Regions from separate parts of the Homo sapiens genome. Here region 2 is linked to region 1. A link means that fine-mapping ties the variant in region 1 to the expression of a gene that starts in the linked region. Tissue or cell type: whole blood. Region 1 holds a variant in brackets; the other region holds the start of a gene. All regions are shown on one strand. Distances are from middle to middle.

Region 1 (9,100 bases):
TAAAGCCCAAACTCCAGTATTGCTTTCAGGTCTCTGCATGATCTGACTCCTACCAACTCTGCAGTGTAATTTCCTACTCCTCACACAGAGAACTACTCTCAGTTCCCCTGGGCACCAACTCTCCCCCTCCAGGCCTTTGTCAGTACTGTGCCCTCTGCCGGTGACACTTCCCTATCCTGCTCCAGGCCGCCCTCGGCTTGGCCTGGCTGATTCCCATTCCTCTTCAAGGCTCAGCTTAACAATTTGTTTTCTGAGCCCATCAAGGCTGGGTGAGATCCCCTGTCACCCTACCTGTGTTCTCCCAGGGCATCTCATTTTTCCCTTCATGGTATTTAACAGAATTCATTTTTATTGATTTCTTGAATGTCTGGCTTCCTCTGTAAGTTCCATGAATGCAGAGACTGGGGTTATCTTCCATATGTTTTATCCCTGGTACCTAGCACAGTGCAACCTCAACTTGAGTGGAGGGAATGTCAGTGGAGGGGCCCCAATTCACCCTATAGCAGCTCAGATGCATGCAAAGAAGGATGAGGAGTGTGGGGCAGGCAGAGTGACCAGGGGCTCTGTTCTTTCAGCCCTACTTCCCATTACAGTTACTGGTGCCCAAGTGCTGAGCAAAGTCGGGGGCTCGGTGCTGCTGGTGGCAGCGCGTCCCCCTGGCTTCCAAGTCCGTGAGGCTATCTGGCGATCTCTCTGGCCTTCAGAAGAGCTCCTGGCCACGTTTTTCCGAGGCTCCCTGGAGACTCTGTACCATTCCCGCTTCCTGGGCCGAGCCCAGCTACACAGCAACCTCAGCCTGGAGCTCGGGCCGCTGGAGTCTGGAGACAGCGGCAACTTCTCCGTGTTGATGGTGGACACAAGGGGCCAGCCCTGGACCCAGACCCTCCAGCTCAAGGTGTACGGTGAGTGTGTCTGACACTGGCTGCCTGGCCCTCTTCCCCCACAAAGCACCAGACGAGCATCCTGAGTCATAGCAGCCAGGGAGAGCTGGGTTCCAGAAAGCTCTGGTCTCTGACCATGTTGCCGACTCAGGGAACAGCTGCTCCCTGGCAGTCACGTCTAAGAAAATTCCTCCTGGCTGCAGCAGCCAGGCTTTGCCATTTCACAGTGCTTGCCTGAACTCTAGCTCAGTCTTTTCTTGGCTCAGTGGCCTTGGACACAATGCTTAGCCTCCCTGGCCTTCACCTTTCTCCTTTGTAAATGGGCATTGTAATATTACCATGTAGAGTACCCACAGGATGAAATGCAGTGGCATTTGCAGTGGCATCCAGGACAGAGCCTGGCCTGTGCTTCCTCAGTTCTAAAGGATCATCATAGACTATAAGATGTGCCACTAGTCTATGTAGTCTATGTAGTCTGTGTAGACTATGTGTCATTAGTCTAAAGGAAAAAAAATGATGTACCATACTAAACTATGACATAATGGGTTTATTTAAAAATCAAATTATAATGAAACTGTAATTAAAAGTATAGAATTTACACATTTCTTAAAAGGGCTTCTTAGAGAGATCTTAACTATATATGATTCATGGGTTCTCTCAGTCATTCATCATTGCAAAACAAACCATCCCAAAACTTACTGACTGAAAACAACAACGATGTTTACTTCTCATAATTCCGTGGGTTGGCAGGCCCAGCTGGGTGCGACTTCTGCTTCGCATGGGTCTGCAGAGCCATTCGCGCAGCTACATTCAGCACCTCGGTTGGCTGCATGGACTGGGGGCTGCGTGGGCCTTGTTTCCCAACAACTCCACCTCCACCTCCACCACAGCCACCTCCACCACCTTCATCATTTGTCTTCTGGTCAAGAAAGAGTGGCTTTCAGCTCTCATTTATCTACCTAATGGGCTAGAAAAGAGGCATGGGTGACCCTAAATCACTGTTTCAGTAAAACCTTAGAAATTTAGATAGAGTGGAAGAGAGGGGAGTCCAGATTTAAGAATGGAAAGCAGAGGTAGCAGCTGGGAAGAGGGTAGCCATGAGGGAGATAAAGATTGTAAGCAAATTGGGGAGATGTCTTGAATCCCCCCGAGACAGCTAACTGGCTGTCCTTGGGCGAGCCACTCAGGGTGCCGATGCAATTGCAAGGTGCCTTTCTGGATGCACGCAGCCCTGAGCCTCATCTTGGCAAGCAGAGTGCTGGCTGGATTTCAGCACCCCCCACCCCCTGCCACCTGTTACCCTGTGACCCCCCTTAGCCCAATGTCCTTGTGTAGTGAATAACCTACCCCACCATACAGGCAGCCCTGGAGCCCCTCCTCTGATCTGAGTCTCAGCTGCCGCACATGTGAAATGAGGACATTGAATGTGATAATACATGCAGCACCCACACCACTAAGCTCTAAAATGCCTTGTTCTCAGCAGCTGAATTACAGATTTTAAGGAAATTGCTGTTTTATTGCTTCCAAATACATAGCGTGATTAGAACTAATTGCACGAAGCTGCCAAGCAGCCGTCCTTAGGAGTTCTGCTTTGACAATAGATAAGAACGATTTGAATTAGCAGATCAGTTACTAGAAATGTCAATGGGTGTTTCTACTGTGCTTGATCGTGTTTGGAAGCAGCTTGTCCTCTTAAGTGATGTAAATATCCCCCCTGTAATCTTTGTTTATACTATTAGTGTGCCCAGCAAATCATTTCTCTTTCATATCACAAATCCCACCAGACTGAACTGGCATTAACGAGGTTTTTCTCTGCTTGACTTTGGAATGCTGTCAGAGACTGAGCCCTCCTGTTGTCACCAGAATGCTCTCCCACTGGCCTCATTTCCACTGAGACTCAGGATTTACTCATCAACCTGTATAGAAAGGGGAATCCATGGCTAGGACACCAGGATATCAGTTTGTTCAGTGACCAGATATCGAGCACCCACTATTTGCCAGCACTACAGAGCTAAGTTTACTAAGCTAACAAGACAGAGCCCCCACCTCTGGGCCCCTCCTTCACAGCATTTTGCACCCTCATAATTATTTAATTAATTATTCATAATCATTTTGTATTTGTCTTTCTCACCAAACTGTAAGCTCCAGAAGGCTAGGAATGTGTTTGTTTTCTTGCCTGACTTAATAAATGCTTGTCATCTCTTGTTGACTGACTGACATATTGTGAGAGAAATACTACAAAAAGAGATAGAGTGCTTGGAGAGCTCAGAGCCATGCCTGGGAAGGCTTCACAGTCAAGGCATTAAGCAATGTGTTCAAGCTGGGCCTTGAAGGATGGGTAGAAGTTTTCTAGGAGGACAAGAAGGGAAAGGCATCTGTGTGCGCAGATGAATTATGTGAAAGCATGAAAGATATTCAAGAGCATGACATGTTTGGGAAAACTGCAAATTAATTAGGATGAGCAGGGAGAAGCAGCAGGAGGTACAGCTGGAGAGATGGGCATGAATCGTTTCCTGAAAGGTTTTGAATATCAAGCTAAGGAATTCAGCTTCTGTCCTGTGGGCAGTGGAAAGCCAGACAAGATTTTGGAACAAGAGAGGCCTAGCCAGAGGTGGCATCTAACCCTGGGTAGATCCCAGAGCCAGAGATGTGGGCCCTGCCCAGCATCCCTGAGACCCATACCAGCTGTACTTTTCTTTCCCAGATGCAGTGCCCAGGCCCGTGGTACAAGTGTTCATTGCTGTAGAAAGGGATGCTCAGCCCTCCAAGACCTGCCAGGTTTTCTTGTCCTGTTGGGCCCCCAACATCAGCGAAATAACCTATAGCTGGCGACGGGAGACAACCATGGACTTTGGTATGGAACCACACAGCCTCTTCACAGACGGACAGGTGCTGAGCATTTCCCTGGGACCAGGAGACAGAGATGTGGCCTATTCCTGCATTGTCTCCAACCCTGTCAGCTGGGACTTGGCCACAGTCACGCCCTGGGATAGCTGTCATCATGAGGCAGGTATGCTAAGGGCCAGCAGTCAGTGGTTGAGGGCTTATGAAGCATCAAGTCCACCTCTAACCCCACCCCTCCATGTTCAGCACCAGGGAAGGCCTCCTACAAAGATGTGCTGCTGGTGGTGGTGCCTGTCTCGCTGCTCCTGATGCTGGTTACTCTCTTCTCTGCCTGGCACTGGTGCCCCTGCTCAGGTAGGAGTCCTGCAGGTGCAGGAGGTAGGTGGAGGAAGTGGAGTTCCTGGGGAGGAGGGGGTCTTGGACCTCCTCCTATTTAGGCTTCAGATGGTCTGCCCCTTCCTACCTCTCCCACCTCATCTCTTGGCCTTCTCTAGCTCATATCTTGGTTTACAACCAGACTCAACTACTTGAAGTCTCTTATGTGGTTCTCCAAATGAACTGTTCTCTCACATCCATCTGCAGACCTTTGTACATTGTATTCCCTCTGCCTGGAACACACTTTCCATGATTTCCCACCCAGCCTCCCCCCTTCATGTGGCTATCTCATACTCAGTCTTCAAGGTGTGCTTGCTCCAGAAAGCCTTCCCTGATTGCCCCAATACTCAGGCTGATTAACATCCTTTCTTCAATCTCCATTGCTTACCCCAATCAGAGAACTACTTACATTTACTTCCCCACTGAATTCTGAGCCCTTAAAAGGAGGATGCTGGGTCAACACTGGGCATGTCAGTGGTTCCCAGAACACAACTCTTCCTGAAACATAGCTGGTATCGACAAACATTGTTGAGTGGGAGTCTAAATGACTCCGAACCCCTTCTTGCCTGAGATTTCTACAAAATGGCTCCCTAAGATAAGCTACTCCCTGGCCAGTGGCTGATAGGGTTGCCTTCTTGAGAAGAGGAAGGAAGGGGAAACTCCAAGATCAGACCTGGTTCTAAGCTCTACATACAGCTCAGTCCCTTCCTCTGCCGCAGGATGCCCTGCCCCTGAAAGAACTACCCGACTGACCAGGGCTCCGTGGTCATTTCCATGCCAGGCTGTCGGAGCTGGCTTGTCCCAAGGTGGAGAAAGGGAGTCAGCAAGGAGGAGTCACTGAGCCCTCACTATGGTGGGTGTGTCCCAGAAGGCAGGGTCTGGGTCCAGCCTCTAAGCATGGGGACAGGCAATGCTGATTCCTGTTCATTCTCTCCAGCAGAGAGAAGGGCAAGAGGGAACAGCTGAGCCTGCACTCCACCTGAAGGCCCCATCTGCTGTGGGAGGGTATTGCCCTGGCCCCTGGCCCCTGGCCCCTGCCCCAAGAGTCCCCAGGATTTGTGATAAGAAAGTGGAAGCCAGGAAAACAGCAGGGAAAAAATACCTTTATTGAGATATAATTCACATAGCATACAATTCACCTATTTAAAGTATACAATTCGATGCCTTTTAGTGTATTCGCAGAGTTGGGCATCCACCTTCACAACCAATTTTAAAACATTTCTATTACCTCCCCCAAAACCCCATAACCCCTTAGCCATCACCTCCCAAATCCCCCATTCCTCCCACAGCACTAGTCTGCTTTCTGCCTCTATGCTTTTGTCTTTCCTGGACATTTCATATAAATAGAACTATACACTATGTGGCCCTTTGGCCAGGCTTTTTTCACTTAGTGTCATGTCCTCAAGGCTCATAAAATAGCATCTTTGGCCACTGAGAAGGGACCCAACAACCTGGGATAGTAGAAAGCTCCA[T/C]GCAGGGAGTCCAGAAGCTGGTTCTGGCTCTGCCTCATGGCTTCTGTCCAGTGATTTAACTGGGTCCACCACAGTCCTAACTTTCCATACCTTCTACAATTAAATGTATGGCATAGTTGCAGGCCAAGGTTAGATACTAGGAAGAATTTCCTATTCTTGAAGAGCCTCCCTTTCCAGGGTGTTGGAAGACCAGGAGAAATGTTCCTTTACCTAAGGTGACCTTGGGCTAACACACTGAGGATTCAGAGGCCTGCAGGCAGGCCAAGGATTCCAAGACTCCAAACACTGGAGGGGTAACTTTCTTTCTGATGTCCTTACCAGGGAAAAAGAAAAAGGATGTCCATGCTGACAGAGTGGGTCCAGAGACAGAGAACCCCCTTGTGCAGGATCTGCCATAAAGGACAATATGAACTGATGCCTGGACTATCAGTAACCCCACTGCACAGGCACACGATGCTCTGGGACATAACTGGTGCCTGGAAATCACCATGGTCCTCATATCTCCCATGGGAATCCTGTCCTGCCTCGAAGGAGCAGCCTGGGCAGCCATCACACCACGAGGACAGGAAGCACCAGCACGTTTCACACCTCCCCCTTCCCTCTCCCATCTTCTCATATCCTGGCTCTTCTCTGGGCAAGATGAGCCAAGCAGAACATTCCATCCAGGACACTGGAAGTTCTCCAGGATCCAGATCCATGGGGACATTAATAGTCCAAGGCATTCCCTCCCCCACCACTATTCATAAAGTATTAACCAACTGGCACCAAGGAATTGCCTCCAGCCTGAGTCCTAGGCTCTAAAAGATATTACATATTTGAACTAATAGAGGAACTCTGAGTCACCCATGCCAGCATCAGCTTCAGCCCCAGACCCTGCAGTTTGAGATCTGATGCTTCCTGAGGGCCAAGGCATTGCTGTAAGAAAAGGTCTAGAAATAGGTGAAAGTGAGAGGTGGGGGACAGGGGTTTCTCTTTCTGGCCTAAGGACTTTCAGGTAATCAGAGTTCATGGGCCCTCAAAGGTAAATTGCAGTTGTAGACACCGAGGATGGTTGACAACCCATGGTTGAGATGGGCACCGTTTTGCAGGAAACACCATATTAATAGACATCCTCACCATCTCCATCCGCTCTCACGCCTCCTGCAGGATCTGGGAGTGAGGGTGGAGAGTCTTTCCTCACGCTCCAGCACAGTGGCCAGGAAAAGAAATACTGAATTTGCCCCAGCCAACAGGACGTTCTTGCACAACTTCAAGAAAAGCAGCTCAGCTCAGGATGAGTCTTCCTGCCTGAAACTGAGAGAGTGAAGAACCATAAAACGCTATGCAGAAGGAACATTATGGAGAGAAAGGGTACTGAGGCACTCTAGAATCTGCCACATTCATTTTCAAATGCAAATGCAGAAGACTTACCTTAGTTCAAGGGGAGGGGACAAAGACCCCACAGCCCAACAGCAGGACTGTAGAGGTCACTCTGACTCCATCAAACTTTTTATTGTGGCCATCTTAGGAAAATACATTCTGCCCCTGAATGATTCTGTCTAGAAAAGCTCTGGAGTATTGATCACTACTGGAAAAACACTTAAGGAGCTAAACTTACCTTCGGGGATTATTAGCTGATAAGGTTCACAGTTTCTCTCACCCAGGTGTAACTGGATTTTTTCTGGGGCCTCAATCCAGTCTTGATAACAGCGAGGAAAGAGGTATTGAAGAAACAGGGGTGGGTTTGAAGTACTATTTTCCCAGGGTGGCTTCAATCTCCCCACCTAGGATGTCAGCCCTGTCCAAGGACCTTCCCTCTTCTCCCCAGTTCCTGGGCAATCACTTCACCTTGGACAAAGGATCAGCACAGCTGGCCTCCAGATCCACATCACCACTCTTCCACTCGATTGTTCCCAGATCCTCCCTGCCTGGCCTGCTCAGAGGTTCCCTGTTGGTAACCTGGCTTTATCAAATTCTCATCCCTTTCCCACACCCACTTCTCTCCTATCACCTTCCCCCAAGATTACCTGAACAGGGTCCATGGCCACTCAACCTGTCAGCTTGCACCATCCCCACCTGCCACCTACAGTCAGGCCACATGCCTGGTCACTGAATCATGCAAAACTGGCCTCAGTCCCTAAAAATGATGTGGAAAGGAAAGCCCAGGATCTGACAATGAGCCCTGGTGGATTTGTGGGGAAAAAATACACAGCACTCCCCACCTTTCTTTCGTTCATCTCCAGGGCCCCACCTCAGATCAAAGCAGCTCTGGATGAGATGGGACCTGCAGCTCTCCCTCCACAAGGTGACTCTTAGCAACCTCATTTCGACAGTGGTTTGTAGCGTGGTGCACCAGGGCCTTGTTGAACAGATCCACACTGCTCTAATAAAGTTCCCATCCTTAATGACTCACTTGTCAACTAGTGGACTAATTAACCCTCCACCAAAAAAACACAAAGTGCTTCTGTGAGACCAATTTTGTGCTAATGAGCATTGAGACTGATGCTTTGTAAGTCACACCACAACAAATATTGATTGAGGGCGCTGCATGTGCTGGGTACATTTCTTGGCACTTGGGAATCAGTAGTCAAGCGAAACCCTTGCCTTTGAGAGTTTATGGTCTGGATAATATAAATAAACAAGTAAGCATATGTCAGATGTTGTTAGTTTCTGTTAAAGACAAGGCAGAGTAAAGGGCTAGAGAACAATCTGTTGGGGAGACAGGGTCTGTCTTAGATAAAGCAATCAGATGACACCCTCAATGGGGTGACATTTGAACAGAGGCCCAGTGAAGTGGAGGAGTGAGCATGCAGTGACAGAGTGTTCCAGACAAAGAGACCAGAAAATGCAACGGCCCTAAAATGGCAGCATGGTTGGTGTTTGCAAAGAAGAGAGTGGAGGCCAGAGGGGCTGGATCCAAACAAGGGAGAGAGAGGGGAAGGACAAGAGTACAGAGAGATGGCCTGGGGCCACATCATATGGGACTTCGTCGGAATGCCCCTTTGTTGGAGTTACAATGACAGAAAGAACCCCTCGAGAGTCCAGATATCAGACTCCTCCCAGAACACCCTCTACCTCATTGCTCCAGGATGCTTGTGGTCAGGTGAGAGCCCTCTCCAGATCTTCTTTTGCTTTTCCTCGTTTTCACTTTATTTTCCTTGAGCAATAGTTTTTGCATCTGTTCTCCTGTACAAAAGACAAATACAAGAGCTGCTAGGGCAAAGGGCTCATGAAACATGATATCAGAGAGAATAGGAAAGGGGAATAGCATAAGAAAAGGGTTAGAGAGGACATTTTTCTCATCAATGGAGACATGAACATTCAGTGCCTCATTTTTAAAAAAACTGCTGCATGAGCTGAGATTGTGCCACTGCACTTCAGCCCGGGCAACAGAGTGAGACTCCGTCTCAATTAAAAAAAAAAAAAAAAACTGCTGCAAACATTAATGACACCTGTAGCAAATCTTTCTTCCATGTGTATTAAGAACTAGCACCTGTTCAGTTAATCACTCTTGGTTACTTACTGATCTTCAGAGGAAGCATCATCTCC
Region 2 (10,201 bases), 21 kb after region 1:
CAGTTCACTATTACCTAAGCTCTTAAAGTTATTTACTTCCTCCATTGTATCTGTATCATGGAAATACTATACAATCATGTGCTACTAAACATTTCTCCCAATTCCATGCCAGTCACATCATGTTGGTAGCTTGAATTCAGCCATAGTGGAAGCATTGACATCATGGAAATCAGCAAAGGCTACAAATCAGGGCTTCCCAGTCCCTACCCCACCCTACACCCTACTCCCAAAGCCACTGTTGAACATATGTCACCACAAGTGCTCTCCTCCAGCACTGAACAAGGTTTCATGCAGGAGAAATGAACAAAAAACACCAAGGCATCCCTGAAGCAAAATTGTTCAAACAGAAACTTCCTTCCCTCGTTCTCCTGGGGTGGTAAGTACAGTGACGACTGTGATCTCAGCATTGGATTTAGGAAATCTCTACCTTCCCTGTTGACTCACCCTAACAGGAAGCTGTTCTCAGAGTCTCTATAAAATCTCTCTTGCTGCTCTTTAGTGAGCCTTTCTTGCCAGAGCCTCACTGGTCCCACCCCCCAAATAGAGGCCAAGTCTGATCATGGCTCCCTTGTTCCTGGAATAGGGAAGATTATATCATTCAACAACCTGCACAGCCAACTGGCTGCCTCTGTCCCTCAGCACCTTTCAGGAAGCTAAGCTGGAGGCTCCTCAGACAGGGAGCACCCTCCCCAAGTCATCCTATACCATCCCCTGCCTTAGGGGATATTTTGCCTTAGGGCAAAAATATGCCAGGCACAGTGCCCTGCTGAAGATCTCTTCATCTATGACAAGTCGTCTTATAGGTGCTCATAAATATGACCAAATAAATGAAGGGATGGATGGTTCCTGGAGTTCTCTGCTCTTCTCCTTATTTAACGTCCTTTCCCTATACCTCTTCCCATTCCCAAGAACTCCCCACCTTCCCACCCCCAAGACAGTGGTCTCTGGTTCCTTTTGCCTCATTACTATCTCTCATGTCTCTCAGCACGCTCTATAAAAGCAGAGCTGGCAATGCCATCACCCCTTTGCAAATACCCAAGTCATCTTGAGGGTTTCCTAGTTATGTGTTACTAAGAAGTGTTTAGGGGCTTCCTAAAGACACTTTGAGGCCCATGCACACCCCACACCTCCTGTGGCCCTAGAATAGGAGCAGGAAAAATGAGGAAGACTAGCTTCTCCTCAAGAGAAAAGAGACAAAGAGAGAAGAAAGAGGCTGGGCTCTCAACAAGCAAGCAGCTGGGGAAAGGAAAGTAGAACGAAGTGACCTTGAAGTACTGTGCTCTTCTGAACACCTCCTACCAACTAGACCAGACAAGTGTCCAGTTGTGTCCCTGTTGCAGCCATCCTGTATGGAGTGCAACCACTTTGTCCACTAGAGGCAGCTGAATTAGAAATACAATGCTCTGGGGTCCCTAAGAGTAGAACTTGGATCAAGGGATAAAAGCTATATGGGGACAAAAACCGGGTTCAGAGAAATGTTCTGTTGAATATTGACAGTCAGAGGCCAAGTGGCCTGCCTCGGAAGGTAGTGAGCTGCCATTGGAGGTTGTCAAGAAGACGTTACATACCCTTTGTCAGGAATGCTATAGAAGGAATTCAAATGCCAGAGAAACAGCCTGCTGTCCTGGAATCAAACATGCCTAGATCAAATCCTGAATTATCTTTATTATCTTTGTTGCCTTGGTCAAGATACCTAATCCCTCTGAGCCTCAGTTTATTCATCTGTATAATGGGGATAATACACAACCTCATAGGACTAAAGTAAGGAATAAATAAGACAAAAAATCAAAAAGCACCTAACACTTAATAGGTGCTCAATAAATGCCAATCCCCTTCCCACCAAAAGGGGGAGCTGGGTTAGTTGGCCTTGAAGGTCTTTCTACACCAGAGAGTATGACTCTAAAACACTTCCTGGCTATTAAGAAAGAAGGCATACATCTGAAAGAGATAAAAGAAGTCAAGATTAGGTCAATGAGGGGAAGAGAAAGAAGGATGCTAAGAATGGTCAGGGATCATTTAGAGGTCATCCATGACAGAGCCGTGTTTCCTCTCAACTGACCTTCTAGAATAAAATGGAAAAGTAAGATTGGGGATTTAAAGTCCAGCCTGAGGGGCCTCAGTTTCCCTATCTGTATAGTGAAGGAGTAGGATTTTTTTTAGGTCAGACTTCAGAGTAATCATATTGAACTTTACTTCATAATGCTCAGTAAACACAGCTCATTATAAATCCAGCCAAGGCCTTTCCCAGCAACTCATGCAGCTATATAAAATCACTAATACCTGCAGAGTGCACATCCCTTCCCAAGGACAGGGGGCCTGGGAGAATGAGATGACTAGTTTTATGTGACAATGGATGTGAAACAGCAACAGTATTGACCGACACCGAATTAAGGGGAAAATATGAAGGAAAAAAATCAAAGACAGACAGACAGACAGACAGACACACATACACACACACACACACACACACACACACGCAGCAACCTGCCAAAAGAATAATATTGAGATCCTGGTTTTGATAGAACTAAATATAACATCTTATATTTCCACAAGCAAATTGCCCAACAAATTGAAATGGAAATATTCTAATGTTACTACAGACAGATATAATGTCAACAACTTGCTATTCTCCTCAATAATTCATTATAAACCAATTTAAAGACCTACAGTACATTGAAAACAACCACCAAAATATTCCAGAGTTAAGTGTAAACAAATAATATGAAAGAATCAAGAAGGATGACCAAATAAAATCAAGGCAGGCCAAACAAATGAAACACAAAGTCCAAAAGGATTCTGAGGAAGGTCTAAGCTAAGTTCTAACATCCCTGAAACAAGGGACCAAAGTGGTAAGGTAACACCATCCAAGTTGTAGCATGGAAATGATAGAACCCACACTACTTTTCCTGATACTTGTCTCCTAGCAGACATGAAACTGCTGATTTCAGGAACTTACCCTTTCAAATATATTTTTGCTACCAAAGCACAAATAATCTAACATAAAATGAACTCTTTAAATACAAATAAATTACATATAAAATAAGAAACAGCCCAGACAATTCAGATGTACAAGCACCTACCCTCTGCATCACTATACTGTCCTCATCAGCTCATCAAATACAAAATCATTCACATTCATCAAATACCCAGTTGAACTATGAGGTTCCTTCTTAAATCTTGGGCATTTAGGATGGACCTAACTGTTTTTTTTTAAGTTTAATCTTTCTCAGCACAGGAAATTAATCCAGCCAAGCTTCTCCTATTAATCATTTCTATTCCATATTAGAAATTCTTAAATTATAGGCAAGTGGGCATTGCATTAGCAAAGTAGATTCCAATGCCCAACAGAGATGATGTTGAACAAAGAAGGATTAGTAGAGCTTGTCTACTTGTCTGCATCCCCCTCCTTGCTGTGTGACCACCTGGTCCCTTTATCAACAAAGGAACATCTATAACACTGCCCACTTTACTTACTGTTTGCTTAGCAAATATATCCTTGGAACTTTATCTCAAACATTACTCTTCAATTAAGCACTCCCCATCTCACTAAACAAGAGAGGACGTCTTGCGCCTATTAACAAAAACAGTGCTTATTGATTTCCACTTTTGAACCAAAAATGACTAAAACATCCCCCAAAATACATTGTAAATATCATGACAAGGTGTTTAACAAAACAAGTGCTGGTAAATACTAAATAGCTCAATTAATCCCTATCTAGGAGTGGCTGACTACTTCAGGGTGTAAGAACGTGGAGCTGGATCTCAGAAAGGCCTAGATTCTCACCACAGAATATTCCATCATAAGGCAGTAACTGTAAAATATCTAAAAACTTTTTTTTTCTAGCATAAAGTAATGCTGCCACACTCATTCACTTGGTATTTCTCAAACATCTCCTGCAGAATGGGCTCTGCACAAGTTGACCAACTGCAGACAAATGAAAAAAAAAAAAGAACCACAAAAATAATTGTTCTAAAACACCAGCAGCATCTAGGTGAAGGGATTTACCATACTCTCCGAGTTCCATAATATATGCTATATAAATATTATTCCCCCTCCTTCCTGCACTTCACCCAGCACCCTAGAACTGTGGCACTTAGTTTTTTAATATAAGAGGTTGTAGTCTTATTTTCACATGTCCTTGTTTCTGTCTCACCGGATGCCTGTGCCTTCTGTGCTCCAAGGACTGGTTTCCTTTTAGCTTTCAGCAACATACAAAGACTCCCTAGACCTTCAGAGCACATTATTCTCAATAGAAAATCTTGACATGTGAAAACTTTGAATATTTAGAAATGGCAAGTGTATTGCACTTTGTCGGTTCCTCAGTTTATTTTACGGTCGTAGATATTCTGAGCTAATTCTTTTTGTCTTTGTTTTCCTTTTATCTGCACTTTGTATGTTGTTCAGAGGAGTTGCCCTGGATGGCCCCTTCCAGCTCTGACTGCCAGGGATCTAAGCAGGAGGGAGGAGAGGGGGCGTGGTCGAGGCGAGCGACAGAAGCAACCCTCCCCGGCCCTGGGCAGGGTTCGCCACCCCGTGCCCAACCTCCGTGGAACGCGGACAGCCACTTCGGACTCACGTCTCAATGTTTCTTTATTGTGCTAACACTGCTGCCTCAGAGCTCAGACCTCACACACAGAACAATTCGTCCAGACAGACCCCCACCCACCCGGCCCCCGGGGCCCTCTGCTTAGGCTGGGGACACCAGGCCTCCGGCCTCAGCCGCTCTAGGACACTCAGCCTCCTCCTCCCTCCCTCTCCCCCAAGCCTTCGGTCCCGGGGGTGCGGAGAAGGCTCAGGATCGCCTTCCTCCGCCCTCGCCCGCCCCTTCCCACTTTTGGGGAGGAGGCTCTGCCTCCCTACGCATTTCCTTAGGGAAATGCCTTCACCCCCAGCCGCCTGGCAGCCTGGGGCGAGCGAGGTCGTCCCCAGCCCCGACGTGTCCCCAGCTGCAGACAGAGAGCCCCGCGCCCTCCTCCTGGCTGGGGCGCAGCCCGGCCCGGCGCGCGCGCTCACACCAAGAGGCCGTTCTTGCACTGCACCGGCCCCTCGGCGCAGTCAGCCGGCTCCGCGCTCTTGACCTTGACGTAGACCGGGGAGGGGCCCGCTTCGCAGGCGGCGGCGGCGGTGCAGGGCGCCAGGGCCACGTCCTCGGGGCCGCCGCAGGGGGGAGGCGCGTACTTGCGGCGCAGGGAGCGGCTGACGTTCTGCGTCGGGTACCCCAGGAGGTGGGTGACGCGGCTGCCGCGCCCGCTGGCCTTGCACCCGGGCGCCACGGCGTCCTCTCTGTGGAAAACAACAGGCGGGCGGGTGAGCGGGCTGCTCCGCAGCGGGGCGTGGGCACGGCCTGGGCAGAGCCGGGGGCTCTTGGCAACCTCTTGTCTCCCGCGCCTCCCTCCACCTGCCCTCGTCTCTCTCCCTCGGCCTCGACCTACTGTCCTTTGTGACCCTTCCTGGGTCGGCGACCCTGCAGCGGTCCCGGAGCCAGCATCCCCATCCTCCAGACAGGGCTTGTCCACGCGTATCTGGAGAGCCCTGCAGGCAGCCCCCTCCAGGCCCCTGCAATCCCTTTCTGATGTTTCGCAGGCCCAGAAGAAGGTGCTTTTCCTCTTCTTCTTTCCTTAGCTAATCCTGACCTTGCTCGAGCAATCTCTCTCTTTCTCACCTCCTGCCCCTCAGTCTTCTCCATCTTTCCCTCCATCCCCGAGGCATTGCAATCATTAGCACTACTAGACTTGTTCTATTTTTATTTCTAGTTTGCTTCTAATATAAGTTATTAGCACTATTCTTATTATTAGCTCTTCTTAAATAATAATGTCAGAGTTCTTACCGGCGCAGTACAGGGGAAACGTGAAAAAACATAGGCCCTGCCCTCCAGGAGCTTACAGTCTAGACAAGACAGACAGGTGCGTAGGCAGGAGGGAAATGGAAGGCAGGGAGCAGAGGTGAAGACTGGGGTGGCAGGGGGAGGGGAAAGCCATGAGTTGGGTGGCAGGTCGACATGCCGCAGTCCCAGCACTCCGTGGCGATGGCGGGCAGGGTTGGGGTGGGGGGCCCAGCCGGCCGGTGGCAGGCAGGAGTGAGGTGGGCAGGGCGCCGGTTCCCTGCCGCACAGCAGCATGCAGCATGCATCAGGTTTTACCTGATCTCACTAGCCAAGTCGCCGCAGGCCCCTCCGCCGACCCCGCCGCCGTTGCCGTAGCCGAAGGCACCGCGGGCGCCGCCAGCCCCGGAGCCCCCGCAGCAGCAGCAGACGAGCCCCCAGATGCCTACGGCCAGGCAGCCCAGCGCGAGCAGAGAGCCCAGGACGATGCCGATGATCACGCCTATACGCCGGGAGTCTGTGGAGAGAAGTGGAGGCAGGTCAGGCTTTCTCACAGCCTGGCAGGTGCCTGAGGGAACAGCACCAGGAGGTGCCAGGTCAGGGGTTAATGGGAAAGAGGGAGAGGGACCCAGGGGGTCTCTTAGCCCTGGAACACCCAGTGGGGAAGATATGGGGAGATGCAAGTTAACCCCTCGTGTCAGCATGCTTCTCCCAGGGCTTCCAGCTGCTCTGGGCTCTAGAGCTCAGAGTGGAAGCTGTGCTGGGCGAGCTTGACCCAGCTCAATAGGGTCAAGATCGTACCCACTGATCTTGGCCCACTTGTAGGAAAGGGGCTGGGAGCCCCCACTGGCAAATGGATGGCAGTGGAAAGGCAGAAGCAGCTGAGGCTCCAAACCAGAGCCCAGCCTCCTCCAGTTCAACCCTCCCAACCACCCAGCCCTCAAGACTGCTGCACCTACCTGAGACCTTCACCTCCACCACACAAACACTGTAGCCCACGTTGTTGGCCACTGTGCACTGATACAGCCCATCATCTGCTCTGGAGATATCCTTCAACACCAGGTCCCCATTGTTCAGGCCTGAAAGTGAAGTGGAGAGAGGCCTGGTCTCTGAGAGCTCCCACCCCAACCTCAGTCCCTGTGGGGTGGGGGATGGGACACCCACTCTAGAAGAAGGGAAGGCTTATGCATGTGTGTACACCCACACCCACACACACACACACACACTCCACTCTCCAGGTGAGTCACCTTCCCCCTGCTGTGAAAGAGATGCAAGAAAGGACCTCTCTCCCAGCAGCAAGACAGGGACACCATTAATTCACTCTGACCTTAGGGAAATATGTACGCTCTCTGAGCCTTGGTCTCCTCCTTTGTACAGTGAGGACAGGAGAAGCCAGGGGAAGAGGAACTCTAAGGTCCCTCCTAGCTCTATTATTCTTTGTTTGACTGAATATTTTCAGCTTCTCTATGTACTAGGAGCTTTACACACCTCCCCCATTTAATCCTTGCATGCCCATGAAAGGTATATGTTAGTATTCCCTTTCCATATATGAAGAAATTAAGGCACAGGGAGGGTAAGCCACTTGCCTTAAACTTGGAGCCAGTCAGTGTCCCAGCCAGGATTCAAGCCCAGCTCTGTCTGAGACCAGGCTCCCTCCAAATTCGCCATAGTACTTTTGACTGACTCTCCACATTTGCCTTATCATCTGCTCTCAATAGCAGCTGCTGGGCCAGGCACGGTGGCTCACGCCTGTAATCCTAGCGCTTTGGGAGGCCAAGGCGGGCGGATCGCCTGAGGTCAGGAGTTTGAGACCAGCCTGGCTAACATGGTAAAACCCCGTTTCTACTAAAAATACAAAAAATTAGCCAGGTGCGGTGGTGCATGCCTGTAATCCCAGCTACTCGGGAGGCAGAGGCAGGAGAATCGCTTGAACCCGGGAGGCAGAGGTTGCAGTGAGCCGAGATCATGCCATTGCCCTCCAGCTTGGGCAACAAGAGCGAAACTCTGTCTCAAAAAAAAAAAAAAAAATAGCAGCTGCTGGGGCAGGCCCAGAGGGAGGGTCTCCCACAGGGATTCCAGGTTTGATTTGATGGCACTGATAACCCAAGGAAACCCCAACAGGTCCCAGAGTCCCTGATCTTCCACTCACCCCCGACTGCCCTCATCCAGGGCCCTCTCACCTTGGTTTATGGAGCTGTGGAAGGACTCCTGGTAGGACAGCTCTGAGTGGTAGCTGTGCTGGGAGGTGTAAGACCCAGCTCGATAGGGGTAATGGTGCCCACTGATCTTGGCCCACTTGTAGGAGAGGGGCTGGGAGCCCCCACTGGCATAGCACTTCAGCACCACATCGTTGCCATATGTCATGTGGCCCTCTGTCCAGCACATGGGCACTGCAGGTCGTGCTGCAAGGAGGCAGACAATTGTAAGCCAGGGCCCAGCCAAGAGACAGAGCCAGGCTCAAAGTGGCCAAGCTGCCCTTGGCTCTTAAGCCAGGGGGAGAGGAGCTTAGAGGAGTCTGGCCATACCTTGGACAGTGACAATGACCTTCCGGGTGGCCATGGTGGTCTTCTTCACCCGGCACTCATAAGTGGCTGTATCAGATACCTGCAGGTTCATGAGGTTGATGGAGGCATCGTACTGGCTTGGGTCTGAGGCTGCAAAGCGGACCCTCTGCTGCAGATGGGGAAGGCTGCCATGGTTGATCCTCTTGTCCTGGTAACTAAGGAACTGTGAAGAGGAGAGGAAAACAGGTGGTGAAACAGGCAGAGCCAAGAAGGGCCATGTGGATTGGCTGCTTTGGGCAATTCACTGAACTTCTCTGAGACTCTTTTCTCAGCTGAAAAAATGAGAATAATGATGCCTGAGCCACTGACCTCTTACAGAACTGGTGAGATCAGGTGAGATCAAGCACTTGGAAAGATATATGGTCAGACTGGGAACTTTTTGAAGGCAAAGACTACAACTTATCTTCCTTTTAGAATGGGATGGGAGGAGGTAGACTGACTGGCTAGCTTAATTCACAATTGCAGAGCTCTCATCCCCATTGCCTCATTCCCTGAAAGGCCTTGGGGGAGGTTCAAGGTCAGTCTTCTCCCTTTGGGATGTTGGCTGTCCAACAGGTAGACATCATGAAGCCTAGAGGAAGGAGACCCCTGTGCCCAGCACTCACCACGTTCTCTCGGTGGTGGGCGGGGTCTGAGTTGACCTGCATCCACTCGATGTCCAGCCCATTGGGACCATAGTCCTCAGGGTCCAGGACGTAGGGGCAGCCCAGCCTCACATTATCACCTTCTGCCAGGTACAGGACCTCCTGTCCATCCCCGTTGATCCGCACAGCAGACAGCAGTGCTAGGGGGAGGGCAGAGAAGATGGGGTGGTAGGAGCAGAAGCAGGGCTTCAGGAGGAGTCAGTGTCAGCCCTTCCCTTCATATTCTCTGTCCACGGCACCCAGAGGTCAGCAGTGCTTTCATAAAAAGGAGGGCTGCTCGTAGTGGGTGTGTATGTGTGTGTGCATGAATTGTCACAGGCATATAACAGCTATACATATAGCTGTTATATATGTAGCTGTTATGTATGCTTGTATGTATATATGATTATGTGTATGCATGTATGAATATGTACACGTATGTACATTGTATGCTTATGAGTATTTGTGGCTGCTTATGTGTACTGTGAGGATATTCATGTACATGACCACGTAGCGTGTCTGCTTATATATTTATATGATAGTGTGGATGTGTTTGTGTGTGTGAAGGCATGTGGTACACACAGAGTTGTTAAATGCTCTGATAGAAGAGCCTGGCTGATTAAATGTCACCTATGTGGGCTCTGTCTGGGCTGAGTGAAGTCCTCCTGTCCAGAGGCAGCGGGGTGGTTACAATGGCTTCTGGGACTCCTCTCCAGCCTGAGAAGCCAAAGACTAAGTGTGTCTATGTGTGTCTGTGTATGACAGTGTGAGTCTGTGGCTGTATGCCTCTGTGTGGTTTTGTATAGTGATGTGTGACCATGTGAGCTATGTAAGTGCTTAAAAGTGACAGTGTGTGCTTGTGCATGACAGTGGACAGCTGTGACCAGGAGCCTGGCTGTGTTCGTGTGTGATAGTGAGTGATGGTGTGTGCCTGGGACTATGGCCACAGGTATCTGTAGGACATTGTGAGTCTTTCTTGACTACACAGCATTGCGTACTGTGTGTGCTTCCTCTTATGTGATTGTGTGGCTCGCATGCAGCTGCCCCCACAAGCTGGCTTCCAGTGAGGCCCCTCCTGCCACTGAGTCAGTGGCAGGCAATCCTGGGTGAGGAGCCAGGATCCCAGGACCCAGGAGCTCAGGACTGAGCTCTTGTCCCTCCCTACCCTGAAGCCCCAGGCAGGCCTATCCCC

The links. PIP is the estimated chance that this variant, and not a neighbour inherited with it, causes the effect. A credible set is the group of variants that fine-mapping cannot tell apart.
Region 2: it holds the start of SNHG28, and the variant in region 1 is the best candidate, but not a certain one, in a credible set for the expression of SNHG28 in whole blood (TOPMed, PIP 0.81).

What each region holds. Positions count from the first base shown.
Region 1 is chr1:159,829,291-159,838,390 of GRCh38, forward strand. It overlaps SLAMF8 (SLAM family member 8), which reads left to right. Exons shown (of 5, transcript NM_020125.3): 2 at 576-902; 3 at 3,586-3,891; 4 at 3,972-4,079; 5 at 5,894-8,202. The coding sequence ends at 5,970. SNHG28 (small nucleolar RNA host gene 28) reads right to left here. Exons shown (of 5, transcript NR_147125.1): 4 at 8,627-8,737; 5 at 5,188-6,865. Among named protein-coding and RNA genes, the nearest start is that of SLAMF8, 7.0 kb to the left of the region's middle. The variant T/C (reference allele first, on the strand shown) is at 5,573.
Region 2 is chr1:159,849,743-159,859,943 of GRCh38, forward strand. SNHG28 (small nucleolar RNA host gene 28) reads right to left here and starts at 5,295. Exons shown (of 5, transcript NR_147125.1): 1 at 5,015-5,295. VSIG8 (V-set and immunoglobulin domain containing 8) reads right to left here. Exons shown (of 7, transcript NM_001013661.1): 2 at 8,992-9,170; 3 at 8,348-8,549; 4 at 8,003-8,224; 5 at 6,782-6,901; 6 at 6,141-6,339; 7 at 4,574-5,284. The coding sequence ends at 5,011. LOC124900450 (small nucleolar RNA SNORD64) reads right to left here and starts at 2,230; the gene lies at 2,164-2,230. LOC107985216 (a long non-coding RNA gene) reads left to right here and starts at 5,105. Exons shown (of 2, transcript XR_001738263.2): 1 at 5,105-5,226. RefSeq lists a silencer at 4,908-5,317.